2 separate regions of the Homo sapiens genome follow, and region 2 is linked to region 1. Evidence: fine-mapped expression QTL. Tissue or cell type: whole blood. Region 1 holds a variant in brackets; the other region holds the start of a gene. All regions are shown on one strand. Distances are between the middles of the regions.

Region 1 (8,106 bases):
ATCAGACTCATTTCTGTCTCTCCCTCAACCAAGGCACCACTATACTATTCATCTTATAACAGAGCCAAGTAATACCTGATCCACTGACAAGCTTCAAGATCTTCTGGCTCCATTATATTCAGAATCAACTTCACCCTCTGTCTATATTTAGTTATTTATATAAGCAGAGGCACGATTTCCCACCCTTGTTCTGGGACTCTTTCCTTTGAATTTAAGATTTTACCAGTTGTGCCCAGAGAGATCTAAATGCTGAGACTTGAGAATCAAACAGAAGAATAACTTAACCCAGGAATTCACTCCACTCTTCCTGCCTTTACAAAGAGTTCTGCAAGTCAGAGTAGCAAAAATCAGCTCACATCCAAAGAAATACAATTTTCTATTTATAGAAACCCTTGCTTCACAAGGGTCTCTGATGAGATCCTCATGACAGTATCACCAGAAGAAGCCTTAAGAATACAAACTATATTAAATGTACCAAATCAGAACTGTTTTATAGTAACTTAGGCACTATTCACCACATAGTGGCAAATGACGTTCTTCTGTTTACCCAACAGCTGCGTCCCGGAGACTGCCCAAATCACCCCAGAAGTTAATACAAAGACAGACACGCAAATACATAAAGATATTTACCATCTTCAGCACTACGCACTAATTCTTCTGGCTGATTATCTACTTTTGCTTGATCTGTTCAGAAGAAATTAACAAATGGTTAACATGGCTGACCCTTGGAGAGAAAAGAACAATGAGATTGTCCCTGGAAGCCCCCGGAGTTGGAAGCAATTAGTCAAGATGCAATGAGGGGTGCAACCAAGATGTCTTCCCCAAAATACTTTCTCTTTAGATTAGCTCCTTGAGCCAGTGCCATAGCGGGAGCTCCCATTTCAGCCCGGATGCAGCTCACATCACTGCTGCACACAGACTCCCAAGGGTTAGAGGGTTAGTTCAGAGCAAGCAATCGGCCAGCAGCAGGAGAAAGCACGGGGCTGCAACAGCCTCTCTATTCTTCTGTAAAGGGTATGATGCTAGCCATGACTAACACCTTCCCAAACCCATGGTCATTAACAAATATTTGTGTGTGTGCATCATCATTCACATATGCCTCTGGGAGGCTTGCTTGGGAAGTCAACTGAAGAGATGTAACTGGGGACCAGCTGCTAAGTGGAATCTTGGCAGGCTAGTGTGAGAGTGGGTATCAGTATTTGGAAGGGAGCGTGCAGGAATACCCGTCAGCTGATGGTGATTTTTTTTTAACCCTATACATTCCTGAGTACTTTAAAGCTGCACCATGGAAATAGCCCCATGTTTCACAGGCAAGAGGTTTGCTAAATGGGCCAATTGTTCTGAGATTTTTTTTTTCTTTTTTTCTTTTTCTCAAGGCCCATCACCAACATCAGGAAAAACAATCAGGGCTGTCCAACAAAGGATTCGACTCGCCTTCTCTGGAAGCATTCAGGCGGATATGGGGGTTGGCCGCCTGTTGAGGAGGCTTTAGAGAGAATTCCTGCATTGAGGGGAGGTTAAAATGGGTGATTTTTAAGATCCCTTCTAACCCTGAGATTCCAAGATCCTTGGGATAGTCAGGACTACATTCCAAATTGGGAATACTGTCTTCAAACCCCTGGGAATCTGTGAATTTTAGGAAATGTTTGGTGAAGTGGCTTTTTCTTTTCTTTTTTTCATTTTTAAATTCTGACTTTTTATTCTTAATTGCAAATGCACAAAAAATATTCTAAACATAACAATGGCCAATTTTCAATCATATGAGTTTGGCAGTGGTTAACTTTTCACTTGATAATTTTTCTTATGACCATCTGCAATCCCAGGGGTGCATTTTAGCTTGAAAATAGCAAGAACAAAACCCCAAGAAATCATGGTTTCTTAGTCCATTTGTCTAGCACACAACTCTCTTTATATATTATGTTTTCTGCTAGTACTCAAGAAATCCTTCACCATTAAAGCAGCTGCCAGTGGGGAATCGTGTACCTAAAGTCTTTCATGTTAAGTAGTTTTGGGCTTATAGTTCCAGTATCTAGAAGAAAAGTGTGAACAGAATAGAAGGGATAAAAGAGAAAGGAAAGTCCTTGAAGCCAGGGACTAATTCAACTCCGTATCATGCAAAATTCACTGGACATCCAACGCTGTCATATATAATGTGGTCCCTTCATAAATGTTCTTGATAATAGCCTGTTAATTTTGAGTCCCAGATCTTCCGTGTAATACTAAAAAGGTCATTTCACATTTCTGAGCTTCATTTTCCTCATCTTTAAATTTGGATAACAATAATTCACCTCTCATAGGGTTGCTTGTGCTGGTTAAATGAGATAATACATGTAAAATTGTTAGGCACGTTTTGGCAAATAATATTCAATAAATGCTAGTTATGACTATTTTCACTAATACTACTAGCTACCACTATCCTTTGAAACTCACTGTACTTGAGAAACACTCAAACTGGGATTCTTCAATTAAAGGAAACCTAGTGTTTTAGTAACCAAATGTAATATATTATTTTATAAGCAAAGTTCCAGCCACTTTAGGTTGAGCCTCTTCAGCGCACTTTGGAGAGGTTATTTTCATCTGTTAACTGCCCCCATTAGAGGGTGCAGTGCACAACAGCACGCAGTGAGGCTACAGGAGAGCACATAGGCATTTTTAAGCTTAGATGGGGCATGAACAGTGAGGCGAACTTTATTCTCACTTGATGAATCTGATGAAATGTCTTCTAGACTTTTGGAAGGCATTTTCCTAGCGGCACTCCTTTCCAAAGTTTTCAAAACAGGACTGGGTTCTTCTTCTGAACCTGTTATAAAACAAAATCGATGAACACTGCACAATACCAAAAAAAAAAAAAATCCTCTAACATATGGACATAGAAATGGTAGGCTGAAAAGAGACATTATGCTATGAGTTTCTACTTTAAGAAGCACTTATTTCACAGAAGAAAATAAAATTTCTCCACTATTAATATGCTCTTAAACATAATTTTCCTGGTCAAGAAATATTTGCAAACGTAAACCCTACAAAAACAAGATTACCACATTAATAGAAATGTGATCTCTTAGTTGTTTACTCCTATTTTAGACATATGATTTGTCCTATGCCAGACATTGACTCTTCCCATTTAACATTCTAGCTTTTGAAGACAGCCATGAAATACTTCTAGGAGCATTAATAAAATTAATTCAAAACCGTGGAAGGCAGGATTCAGATGTTTAACATCTGTGTATAATTGGGTACACATATGAGTGCATTCTCCAGATCAAAGGTTGTAGACTTTCTGGGTTTCATGATCTAGTATAATTTCCAATGAAATGTTGGGAAATAACATGGGATAGTCAAATTTTTATTTTAGTAAGGCATTTTAAAGTTGCGGGAGGGAGGCCTCTATCATTTACTAATGCCGTTATTTTATAAAAGGAATGGCTGCATCATGAATAAGCTTAAGTACTGACATTTATTACTGCTGTATTCTCAGTGCCTAGAACAGTGGCTGGAAATAAACACTTCAAAATATTTGCTGAATCAATGAGTGATTCGATTAAGGAATCAATTAATTTAAGAACCACTTCTCTAGACAATAATTTCCTGAAATACATTCCAGTTCTGCCTAGTACATTCCATAGCAAATGGATTCTAAGATGAATTAGATTTGGATGTTCTCTGTTCAAATTTAAAATGTTCCTTACTGCGGACCTTCTCTGTGCATAATGGCCCAGCATTTCCAAAAGTATTTGACTACTGAACCTTTAATTTTTCCCAAAGGAGCATACTGAGGTATTGCTTAGTTAAGAGCTCAGCCGCAAGTCAAATGTGTTAGCTTGCTCCCCAAAATTACAGTACCCTTATAGTAGGTTTCTCTTCATTTTTCACCCCACCCCCACTGCAGTTTGCTTTAAAATAATAATTTAGGTTAGAGTATATAAACCTAAATTAAAATCATGACTATACCATTTGATACTTCTTAATTGGCTTGTTATTCTAAAATGTCTTCTCTGGGCTCTGTTTAGGTGATTTTTTTTTTTTTTTTTTTTTTTTTTGAGATGAAGTCTTGCTCTGTAGCCCAGGCTGGAGTGCAGTGGCGTGATCTCGACTCACTGCAAGCTCCGCCTCAGGGTTCACACCATTCTGCTGCCTCAGCCTCCCGAGTAGCTGGGACTACAGCCACCACCACGCCCGGCTACTTTATTGTATTTTTTAGTAGAGATGGGGTTTCACCATGTTAGCCAGGATGGTCTCGATATCCTCACCTCATGATCTGCCCGCCTTGGCCTCCCAAAGTGCTGGGATTACAGGCGTGAGCCACCGTGCCCAGCCTAGGTGATTATTTAACGCTGCCTTTTTAGATAGGCTTTTTACTATTCAGTCAGTTATGCTGGGATACACATTAGATGATAGTCTCTAACATAATTGCAAATTTGCAAGCGCTCCTTCTCCTGTGGGTCAGTTTACACTAGCAACTCATGGGCAGTTTAGTAAGAGCCTACCTCAACAAGTTTAACATGCTGGCTTTATTCTTGCCATTA[C/T]ATTAATTAATTATTAATTAATTAAATTTATTTACTTTAGAGATTAAATAAATTTAGAGATTTAATTAGAGATTTATAAATAAATATGTATGGTTTTAGAGATTGATATTTCAATTTCTTTCTTTTTTTTATTAACAACAAAATTTTTTAGAGGGGCTTCAACTTAACTGAATAGGATTAAAGGTGGATTCTTTGGTCAGTGTTCAAGAAGAGACCCTATAGCTACTTACAAAGGAGTCCACACCTCAAAGTAAGCCACTCAGTAAAGCTTATCTATTTTCACTGGAACGAAAAGGAGCTAAACAAATGACAAATTCTACTAAACTACAAGGAAGGCAATCAGCATCAGTTGTGCAACTTTGGTTAAAATGTCCCAGCCAAAAAACATTCTCTATCATTTCATCATTTTAATCAGGTAGCTTCTCATTCCTATTTGCTCTGGGGTTTCTCTGCTAAAATGTCCACATGTTGATTAAATAGCAAACTGAGACAAGCCCTACATTTTACAGCCTGGCCGCCAAAACCAACGCCCCCACGTTCATGTAGATGAATGTGGAGATCGACTCAGGTCATCAACTTAGCCAAGGCTGGAGCCAGAGAAATGTACCTGGCCAGGCAATGCCCTTAGGTGGCATCAGGTGAGTCATCTGGCCAAAGTCATACTCTAGAAAGGGAAGATTGTGCATATAATTGAAAATGAGAGGGAGAAAGTGGCAACAAAACACCACAGCACAAGGTATCTGAGGGAAGGAAAGTTCCGGCCTTGTATTTTGTCCCTAGCATTTAGCCACCACTGTGGTAAGATATTGCTCCCGAATGGGAAATTTGTGTCCATCTGTGGCACATCTTTGCGACAAATCTTACCAGACTTCTATAAAGGTTGCCAATTAAGGAAGAAATTCTAAATATTTCCAGGAGGAAAACTAGCTTAAATGTATTAAAGGTACTTTCCAAACCCAAAAAGTCATTTAAAAAGTATTTTTTGAAACCTAAAAGTTCTATAGGTAGATTAAAGAGAAGTCAACTCAGACTCTGAAACAGCCTTATAGGAAAGCTGTTTTACGTAATGCATTTGATTAAAAAATATAAATAATTTTTTTAATTAAGAAAGTCTCAGGAACACAGAAGTGGTAAGAAGAATTTAACATCATTTAAGAATTATGTAATGCATTTGATTAAAAAATATAAATAATTTTTTTAATTAAGAAAGTCTCAGGAACACAGAAGTGGTAAGAAGAATTTAACATCATTTAAGAATATCAAATTAATCCCAATTAAAAAAAATCATCCTTTACATCAGCATTCCATAAAGCAGACTCACTGTGAGTTAAAAAATTTTAAATGCTCACTGGAAGGATTTCTCCAGCTCTCTGCATTAGAACTGGTGTTTCCATCTGAAAAATCAGACTCAGAGAAACCTTCTTTTTCTTCCTCTTTCTCTTGTTTCATATATGGCGATGCTAGAGTCAATTCAACTTTACTTGTTTTTGTAGAGTTTTCTTTGTTCATCAGGAGAGGAATGGGTTGCCTATTTCTGGACACACTAATTGCTTCAGAAGCCTCTCCAAAGCCAGGTTCCTGAAGAGTCCCTTGTCCCCCTGCAACCCCACTTTCACTGTCCCTGTCCTCTGGGGGGGTTACAGTTTTAATGGTCCCTATTTCATGAGCCACATAAAGTTGTGGGGTTCTAGGGATCTCAACTCCACTTCTGGAACCACAAAAATCTACCAATAAATCAGTCACAAGTGCGTCTCCTCCCAACATTTTATCACATTGGTTGACTTGAGATTCCAAACCATTACTTTTATCCTTCATTTCAGAGGTCTGTGAGGCTGCCCTGTAAAAATGGGGCACTGTCCCCAAGAACCTGGTCTGCTCTGACTGTGAGGACTCCTTCTCGTGAGTTTCTTCTCTCACTGACACCTGGGGCTGATAAGGAGGAGCTTCAGTTATTTCTTTAAGAAGTTTCTCAAAACCAGCATCAAAAGCACTCTCAGTTATTAACGGAGCCTCGGCCTTTTCTACTGTTTCTTTTAATTCCTCAGGATGGCATTCAGAAGTGGCTCGCCTGGGCTCCTCTGTACTACCTATTAACTTTGATGGAGAAAGATTCCCTGTATCACTTTCATATTTTGAGGGGAAGGTTTCAGTTTCTTCCTTCAGTAGTTTTTCTAAGCCAGCACTGAATTCGAGGAACTCTGATTTGGGTTGAACAATTGTTTCCCTCACAATTTCTTCCACTTCCTGAGGGAGGCCTTTGCCATATTGAGCAACAATGGAAGCAAATGAGCTAAGCGTCTGGTCTGATGGAGACATTTGGGCAGCTAAATAAGATCCAACTTCATGAGTTTTATCAGGAACTACATTGGAGGAATAAAAATCCTTCCTGTCTGGAACTATGGTGTCCATCGTAGCCCATGGTGATATCACTCCTGGAGGATTTAGGGGGCTACATACTGGCTGTACTGCTTCAGGAAATTCTGGGTTCACTTCTCCAGGACCTACTTCCCTTCCAGCTGGATAACTTAACCATACTTCTCCACACAGCTTCTGTAATGCAGCACTTACATCATTCAATACAGGTCTGGGTGGAAGAATGACTTTCTCTACAGTCTCCGAAATTTCCGTTTGAGAAGGGTGTACCCTAGCCTGGGGAACAAGATGAGCATCCTGGGGAAAAAGCATATCTTGGGGAGGGCTGGCCACATCCCCAAAAGAACCCTTTCTGGAAAGCTGGGAAGTTGGATCCAATGGATGAGAATCTTCTGCAGCCATCTGAATCAAATTCTGTGTGCTTAGCTGGCACTCACCACTTTCAGCTTTCTTGAGGAGAGCTGTATTTCCAAAAGTTTCATCTCTCACTGGAAAAGGAGCTAGTATTTCTCTCTTATCAGCTGAAGTATTGTGACTCTGTTCTATCCCTTTTCCAAAAAATCTCCCCTCTTCCAGCTTAGAGTTGGTTCCAGTGATAACAGGCGCCAACTTGGCTTGCAAGGGAGAGGGTGAAGTTCCAGTTGCTTCCTTCAGGAGTTTGTCTAGACTAGCAGTCAAAGAGTTCCGTTTAACCTTTGGATGAACTACTGTTTTGTCAACATGCTCATTAATGATCTTCTCAGGTCCTTTGACTTCTTCCTCAGTATCAGCAAAATCTGTTTTTTGAGGCCATGTCCTATTTTCAGAAACACTTGGTTCAAGCACTTGTTTTCCATGAACTTTTCCACCAGAGGGTTGAATTGCTGGTGTTGAGGTTTCTGAAAGCAGTTTCTGCAAGCTGTCATTAAAAGTGTCTTTGCAGTCTTTAGACAAAACATTGGTTTTTATTATGGATTCTTGAATCTCTTGTTCTGAGTAATCCTTTTCTTCCTTAAACACTGGAGTAACAATCCCTTCCGTATTCTTTTCCACATTTTCCTTTGATGACTCATTTCCTGGCAACTGATAAGTATACTTTCTAAGTGGACTCAAAGGAAATGTGATTTCATCTGGTAGCACCTGGAGTATGCCCTTTGAATTTAATTTCTCCATTTCCTCTCTTGCCATAACTTTTTTTGGGCTTAGAAGCACCTCTGCTTCATGGGTATTT
Region 2 (8,106 bases), 88 kb after region 1:
GTGCCAGGAACAGTGCCAGGCTATGTGGATACAGAAATAAACCACAAAGTCTGAGCCCTCAGGGGCTCAATCTTTTCCTAAATTGTTCTTTTCATCTCCATCCTATTCCAATCATAGCTGCACATGTCTTTGCTCCCTTTTTCCTTCTCTTTCTCCCCCTCTCCAGTTCTGAGCCACTTAAGAGTGAGGTCATGTGCTTCTCCCACATTCTGCAAAAGTCCTAGCACAGGTCCAAGTGCCCAAATGGGCACTAGGCAAAAATACTGTATGTAGTGACTTTAGAGGCAAATACTTAGTGAAACACATGGCTTTATTACCATTTTTTAAACCTGCTTTCATTATACTGTATTTCTGTCAACCTACCTTCCCCAAAATTCCCTTAAAGCAGTTTTCCTAACAATCTCAAGAGGTTATAGATTAATAATAAAAAATAAATAAGCAGAAACCACTCTCCTCTCAATGATCTGTGGATCATGTGTTCTGCATGAAGGCAGTCAATAGAGGAGGCCCTTAGAAAATCAGGAGGAGGCGTCAAAAGCTTGAAGCAACAGAAAGTAGAAACATTTTCTCATATCTCATTCATCTGGATGTGGAAATTCTCTACCAGACTTCAACTTGGGAAACCATGAATAGAAAACAACCCAGAATCAGACTTTTAAGACAAGAAGGACCCTCATCTGGTCCAATTCTCTAACTTTATAAGGAAACCAAGGCTCAGGGAGAAAGTGTGACTAAACCCAGATTGCACAGATTGTCTTTGCCAGATGCAGAAGTTGAAACCAAGCCACCTGCCTCCCAGTGCAGGGCCCATTGTTTCCTCAGAGCATCCAGGAGCACGGCGTATGCCTGAGAGCAGTCCTTGAGGCAATGGCTACTGGCACTCACATGCCCCCATGGGTACACTGCCTTTCCAGTGGCTCTCATTGCTTCCTCTTAGCAAGCCTCTGCCTTGCTTAGGGCAAGTCAAGACAGCTCCCAGGAGCTCTGAGACTCCCTGTGTAACTGAACAATTCCCTTGAGTGGCAAGCCTGCTTTCATTCTATAAAATGGGACTATCTTCTGTCCTCTTCTGTTCAGGATTGTGATGAGGATCAATGAGATACTAGCCACCAAGGAAACCTACATTCTTTGAAGAAAACTTGAGTCCCAATAGAGCATTTACATCATGATTAAGTCCTACTAATACCAAGAGTTGGATTCCAGGATTTTATAAAGACTGATAATGTTTTATTGCCTCTATGTTTAAACATTTTTAAAATATTAATAGCATACACACATGCATGCAATCCAAGTAACAAACAATAACACCTGACACTTGATCCTTATAGTGATTCTGGTAAGTGAGGATAGAATTTGTTTATTATCATCAATTTATAAAAGTGGAAACCAGCTCAGAGAAGCCATCTGTCTTGCCCAAGGTCACACAGGTAATAAAATGCAATGCTGGGGCAATGACTTTCTCCAGGACCCTCCTGAATTTTCTGCAAATTACTGTGCAAATTAGTTTTTTAATTTTCTGCTCAAATTTTGCACATCAGCAACACTAAAGAGCTACCTTTTCTGTTATATTTGAGATGTTTAGCAAGAGTACAGCTTGACCCTGCATTTTCAACAGCAGCCCCATGGCCCAGCACTCATCTCTCCCACAAGATAAATACAGGGAAATTATGAGGGGTGAACTTCGGGGCTCACAAACAAGATTAACCTTCATGATGCTTTTAATTATTCATGATTTTTTCTCTACATTCTGTCAAAAACAATCTGAGATGGCTCTTAGCTCTGACAATAATTCAGTCAAAAGGGCTGTATTTGTGTGTGTGTTTTTAAAATTTGTTAATATAGATGCAAAGAAAAAGATTTGGAACGCTATATCCCAAGTTTTGCTTTAATTATTTGAGTATAGATGTATTTATATCATTATTATTATTATTATTATTTGAGATGGAGTCTTGCTCTGTCACCCAGGCTGGAGTACAGTGGCATGATCTCAGCTCACTGCAACCTCCGCCTCCCGGGTTCAAGAGATTCTCCTGCCTTAGCCTCCTGAGCAGCTGGGACTACAGGCGCATGCCACCACGCGCAGCTAAGTTTTGTATTTTTAGTAGAGATGGGGTTTCACTATATTGGCCAGGCTGGTCTCGAACTCCTGACCTTGTGATCCACCTGCCTCGGCCTCCCAAAGTGCTGGGATTCCAGGCATTAGCCACTGCACCCGGCCTGATATTATTATTAATGTTAATCTGGATCTTATATTTTTTTCTACAATGAATATGTTTAGTTTTGGTAATAAGAAAATAAAGGATATTTTTATTTTTAAAACATTCTTCATTCTGAAAAATGGGAAAAAAGTGGATGTCTCCCCAGGGACTAGAGAAGCTCTATTACTGTGAACCAGAGAGTGGAAAATTCAAACAGTAGTCTAAGCCCTCTAGAACCTTGGTCCTACTTCTCCATCTGGGTACTCGAAGCCCCTAAGAATATATAACAATCTGCCAGGACACCAGTTTTATTCAGATATTTTGAAGAAAAAACTTTATATTTTTAAATCAAAGTCCATATATTATGAAATCAAATGAAAAAAATTGCATAAGCACAGGAGCATGTGTTGGTCTTCTTTTCCATTGCAGGATCTTCTATGGAAAAGTTTGGTAAGCCCTAAGACAAACATTATAATCTTATCCCCCCAACTTTTGAGAGAGTGACAACCTCATTAATACCAAGTAAGTTTTCCTCTTAATTTAAAAAAAAAAAAAGCCACATTTTTCTTCATCTACTGTATGTTTAAAAATTCTTTGTAAAACAGGTGACAAGCAAACATATTTCCAGGGAGCTCTGGAAGCCTATACAGGCACAGTTCACCCTACCTCCCTTGCCCAAAGAGGAGAAACACCTAGACTAGCATCTGGGTTTTGAAGATGGTGGAACCTGGGCTTCCCCTAGGCTGCCTCACATTTCTACAAGGCAGCAGACCACTCTGCACAAGGTGCTAATTCATTCATTCCACAAATGTTTATTGAGCAAAACCTGAAAAAGGCCTCTTAGGGGACAGTGGAATCATTCACCAGCCAACGGTTAGGGCTAACGGGTCAGATGTGGACAATCAATCTTTCATTAGACCCCAAACCACCTCTAGGATAAAGCAAACAGGGCCCTGCCCCACCCACGCACTAGCAGCTGGGCAGGATTAGGGTAGGCCTTCTAGAACAGTACTGCTGCTGAGAGGCTAAGGCAGTCACAGATTACCTCCAGAATAACGGAAACTCCTGCACCATAAATGACATAATAGCTCTAAGATGTTTTGCATAGTGCCTGACACCTGGTGAGAACACAATGTTAGACATTTTTGCTCTCCTTATTCCAGCTTGCTCTTACTTAAGGAGCACAAAGACAGTGTAAAGAACACAGGTTTTAGAATCAGAGATTGGATTTGAATTCCAGCTATGCTACTTCCTAGCTAAGTGACTAAAGGAAGCAATCTTTCTGAGCCTGTTTCTCACCTATAAAATAGGGTATAGTACATCACCCCTCATGTGGCTTTGTGAGAATTAAGGATATATTACATACAAAGAAGTGTCTGGCCCATAGTAAGTGCCCACTAAACAGCAGTCAACATTGCCCTGCTGCCGTCCCCACACCTCTTCTCCTTCCTAGCTGCTCTTGATGGGTTCTGCAATCTGATTTCACCTGGATACCACACTAAGGGTGAGAAGGGGCAGAACTTCAGGGGTGGAGGAAAGTGAGGGAAGGGAAATGCTGGAGACCTTCCATAGAAATCCAGCCAAGTCCTCAGCTCCTTTCAATCATCCTACTCTATCTGGCTGCTCCATCCAGCAGACAGCAGGGGTCACCATCCTGGTGGGGAATGGCTGCCAACAAGGGGACGGGAAGCTGGATGGCAGTTTGCATCCACCCCACCTTCCAGGGTCTATCTGTCTGAAGCCCCACCGGGCTTCCTCTGCACATCCCTGCCGGGCTGTGTGGCTCAGGGGGCTGACAGGGTGATTCATAGCCTGTTCTTATCTAGGCTTCTATCTCAACCCTGCGCCCAAAGCCCTGGAGGCTGCTGGTCACAAACCAGCACTAAATGAAAAGAAGAACTTTTCATTAAGGCAGGAAGTGGAGCCCCTCAAGGTCAAAGGGGATTTATAAAGAGAGGAGGAAAGAAAGGGAAGACGCGGCAGGATGGGTGCAGAGAAAGAGAGACCCACTTCCTATATGCTGGTGGAGCCCTGTGTCTTAGACGCTAAAAACAGTCGCTTTTCCACTTCAAAGGATGATAAAGCCCACTCGTGTAGTTTATAGCTCGCCGTGGGACGAGGTGTGGGTATGGAAGAGAATTCCAAAACACGTCTTATTTTCAAAGGAGAAATCATCATCCCCTGGCCGGCCCTTCCCAACACCCCACCTGTAAACAGGTGCTGACGCTCCTACCTTTCTGCACCTGAGCAATCTGGGGGCAGTTACTCTGCAGCCAGGTCTCCCCAGCACCCAGCCCCAAGCCCAGGTCAGTCCCTGAAAGCCCTAGAAAACGCGATAGCTCAGCAGAACCCTCGCCTACCCGGGCATCCCAGCTTCCTGGCCGCCTGGGCAGCGGAGGTGGCTCTGGAGTAGGTGGGAAACTGAGGAAAGGAGCTTTCCCCGTGCCAAAACGCAGTTCCCATTTTAGAACTGGTTAGACTAAGGAACAACATTCTACACCACCTCCCTCACTTAACAGAGGAGGAAGCAGAGACCAAGAGAGGGAAACAAAGTTGCCCGAGGTAACACAGCGAGTGGGCCAAGTAGAGACTGGAACCCGAGTGCGCACCTCCGAGTCGCTGCCGGGCAGGGAGCGCGCCTCGCCGTCTCTCTTGTCTTCTGGCCCCCAGCCCTCGGCCTGGCGGTGCAAACCGCGCAGCCCCGGGCGCGGCGCGTTACCTTCCCCCGGGCAAGGCGTTGCGAGCCTTCACTCTCCCGACGGACGCTGGCGGCACGGCCCGGGTGTCGCCCGGCACTGTCAACGCAGAGCGGCGTGCGCGAGTCCCTCCCCGCTACCCCCGCCCCCGGCGGGCGGTGCGGTGGGGCCGGTCCCGGGTGCTCGGGCCAATGGCGCTTCGCCCGCTCCCCGCCCCGGCCCGCCCCGGCCTCCTCGCCCGGCACACAGCGCCTGCCAGCCCCTGCCCTCTCCCCTTCCCTCCCTTCGCCCTCCGCCCCCGCCTGCTGCTTCTCTCCGGTTCCTAGCCTCCTTCTCAAGTGTACCTTGCCCCGAAACAACCTGTTTTCTGTGCAAATAAAGCAGCACTGTTGTTATTGTTATTATTATTTTTATCACGGCGCGTTAGGGGGCCTTGGAGCCCGAGAGTGTGGAGCACTAGGAGCCTCTGCACTCCGAGAAGGGACAGCCACCGCGCAGGGAAAGGGGCGCGGAGGGTATGGAGCCCGGTCATGGGGTAACTTGCTTTAACCCTCGGGACGTCAATTTCCTCACATGTGAAATAGAAGAAGGGGGGAAAAAAGTTGTTGAGAGGACTAAATGAAGTGATGCTTTAAAATACAATAATACCTAGAGAAAGGTGAGGGCGTCATGCACTGCCTGAGCTACTTACTGGGGTATGCACAGAGGACTGGTAAGCTCCTGGAAGACGCTGTGTGGCAGGGAGGCAGACAATGCAATACAGTAAATACAATATTGTGGTCGGGCGCGGTGGCTCACACCTGTAATCCCAGCATTATGGGAGGCCGAGGCAGGTGGATAACCCGAGGTCAGGAGTTCGGGACCAGCCCGGCCAACATAGCAAAACTCTGTTCTAATTAGAAAAGAAAAAAGAAAAATTAGCTGGGTGTGGTGGCGAGCGCCCGTAGTCCCAACTACTTAGGAAGCTGAGGCAGGAGAATCGCTTTAACCCGAGAGGTGGAGGCTGCCGTGAGCCAAGATCGCACCACTGCACCCCATCCTGGGTGACAGAGCAAGACTCTGTCTCAAAAAAATAAATAAAATAATTTAAAAATTGTATCACGACCTATTTTTTACAAGTTACCCATGATGGGGCCAGCCCAGGCAAACCTCTGAAGGAGATGAACCTTAAAGCCTTTTTCCTTATCATTTCCTGGACTAGTGTTGTCCATTTAACTGAGGGTGGCCCAGGTCTGCCTTTGGTTCTTCCAAAGGTCTTCCTTCTCCCAAACTTACAAATACTTATCCCCAAGGGCTTCAGTTAGTGCCCAGTGCAGGCTGCTAGCCTGGCCCAAGAGTCCTGGCACTGTGCAGAGATGTGTATTCTGGCTTCCTTCAGCCTTTGAGAGCCTGGTGTGTCCCTGTGCTGGGTGAGCATGCCACATGCAAAAGAGGAATAAGCCACTGGTCTTGCCTTTGAAGAAACAAATTTGTAAATAATTTCATTTTAGGGTAAGTGTTATAATAGGTTGACAAAGTGTTGTAGAGTCACTACGCTGAAGGAGGGGGACAATAAAAAATACAAATGTGACCAAGGTAGGTCTTGAAGGAGGGCTACAAATTAGGTCAGATTGAAGGGGTGACAGAAGACTGGGCACAGAGAGGCAGGCAGAGACATGGAGATGCCTGTCATATGTCACGGCTATTGCACAGGATTTGGGACAATGAGGCAGAGATGAAGCTAAGGAGGTAGGTGGGCAGATGTTGGAGGAGTGGCTGTACCTGCCTTGCTGAGGGAAGCAGGCTGTGTCCTGTTGGTGATGGCTGTTGGCGAATGATTTTAGGCAGGGGAGTAGCGTGACCTCAGATGCTTTTGGTACTTCACTTTTATTGTTGATTGCACCTGCCTTGGTTATCCCCTTCCTGCCCCTCTCTAGCTCTGGAGGGCAGGCACTGGGTCTTGCTCACCTCTGGGTGCCTTGTATCATCTGGCATAGGACTTTGAAGGAACTAAATACATGCTGTTCCCAGTATCACTCGTCCCCTGGAAACAAATAGCAATGCCTAAATGCTAGAGAGGGTCACAGGATCCTTGCTTCAGGTTGTGGGGCAGGCAAGTGGGGGAGAAATTTTAAGGCAGGGTCTTGTTATGGCTCCCAATTCATCTAAATCTTGTATGGCTCAGAGACTAAATCTTAGAGCTCTTGGCCAAGATCCAAATGCTGTTAGAAATGTCAATTTCTAATAAGACCTTAGACCAATTACTCAACCTCCCTGTGCTTCAGTTTGCTCATTTGTTAGAGAGAAAATAATTGCACTGCTCTCTCAGGCCTACTGTGAAGATTAAAAGAAGATGCACATGTTTAGCATGATGCCTTGCACATACAGTGCACTGAAAAAGCCTTGGTTAACACGATCATATCAAGTCAGCAATGGCCTGTTCCACTTATCCCATAGGAACCCTTCAAAATGGTTTACATATAAGTGACACTTAAACTTTAGAGAATTCTAGGTTGACATTGAAGGGGAAGGCAAGAGGGTAGGGATAGCATGGTGTAAGGTTAAATGCACAGACTTTGGTGTATCTCCTGGCTCTACCACAGAACTCGCTGGTTGACTTTGGACAAGTCACTTAATTTCCTTCTTTCTCTGGGTGACTTTAGACAAGTCTCCTCCCTCCCTCCCTCCCTCCCTCCTTTCCTTCCTTCCTTCCTTCCTTCCTTCCTTTTTTGGCAGGGTCTCACTTTGTTGCCCAGGCAGTGGCACAAACACAGCGCACTGCAGCCTCAACCTCCCAGGCTCAAGCCATCCTCCCACCTCAGCCTTCCAGGTAGCTGGGACTACAAGCACACACCACCACGCCCAGTTAATTATTGTATTCTTAGTAGAGACGTGGTTTCGCAATGTTGACCTCTTGAGCTGAAGCGATCTGCCCGCCTCAGCATCTCTAAGTGTTGGGATTACGGGCGTGAGCCACTGCACCCAGCCTAAGTCACTTAACTTCTGTTAGCGATTGTTCTTCTATAAAATAGAAGTAGTCATATTACCTGCCCCATGCCAAGGAGATAACACATAACACATATAGCATATTGCCTGGCCCAAGGTAAGATCTCAATTCCTGTTAGCTAATGGTGTGATAATGGTTGGAAGAGAGTTATTATAGTTTTTGGAAAGAATAATCTCCATGCCTCTGCCTGCCTCTCTGCACCCCAGTTTTCTGTCACCCCTTCCAG

The links. PIP is the estimated chance that this variant, and not a neighbour inherited with it, causes the effect.
Region 2: it holds the start of SYTL2, and the variant in region 1 is fine-mapped to the expression of SYTL2 in whole blood (TOPMed, PIP above 0.99).

What each region holds. Positions count from the first base shown.
Region 1 is chr11:85,718,160-85,726,265 of GRCh38, forward strand. It overlaps SYTL2 (synaptotagmin like 2), which reads right to left. Exons shown (of 20, transcript NM_206927.4): 8 at 5,873-8,106; 9 at 2,699-2,800; 10 at 631-684. Among named protein-coding and RNA genes, the nearest start is that of CCDC89, 36 kb to the left of the region's middle. The variant C/T (reference allele first, on the strand shown) is at 4,524.
Region 2 is chr11:85,806,147-85,814,252 of GRCh38, forward strand. It overlaps SYTL2 (synaptotagmin like 2), which reads right to left and starts at 4,995. Exons shown (of 20, transcript NM_206927.4): 1 at 4,808-4,995. RefSeq lists a silencer at 4,954-5,133.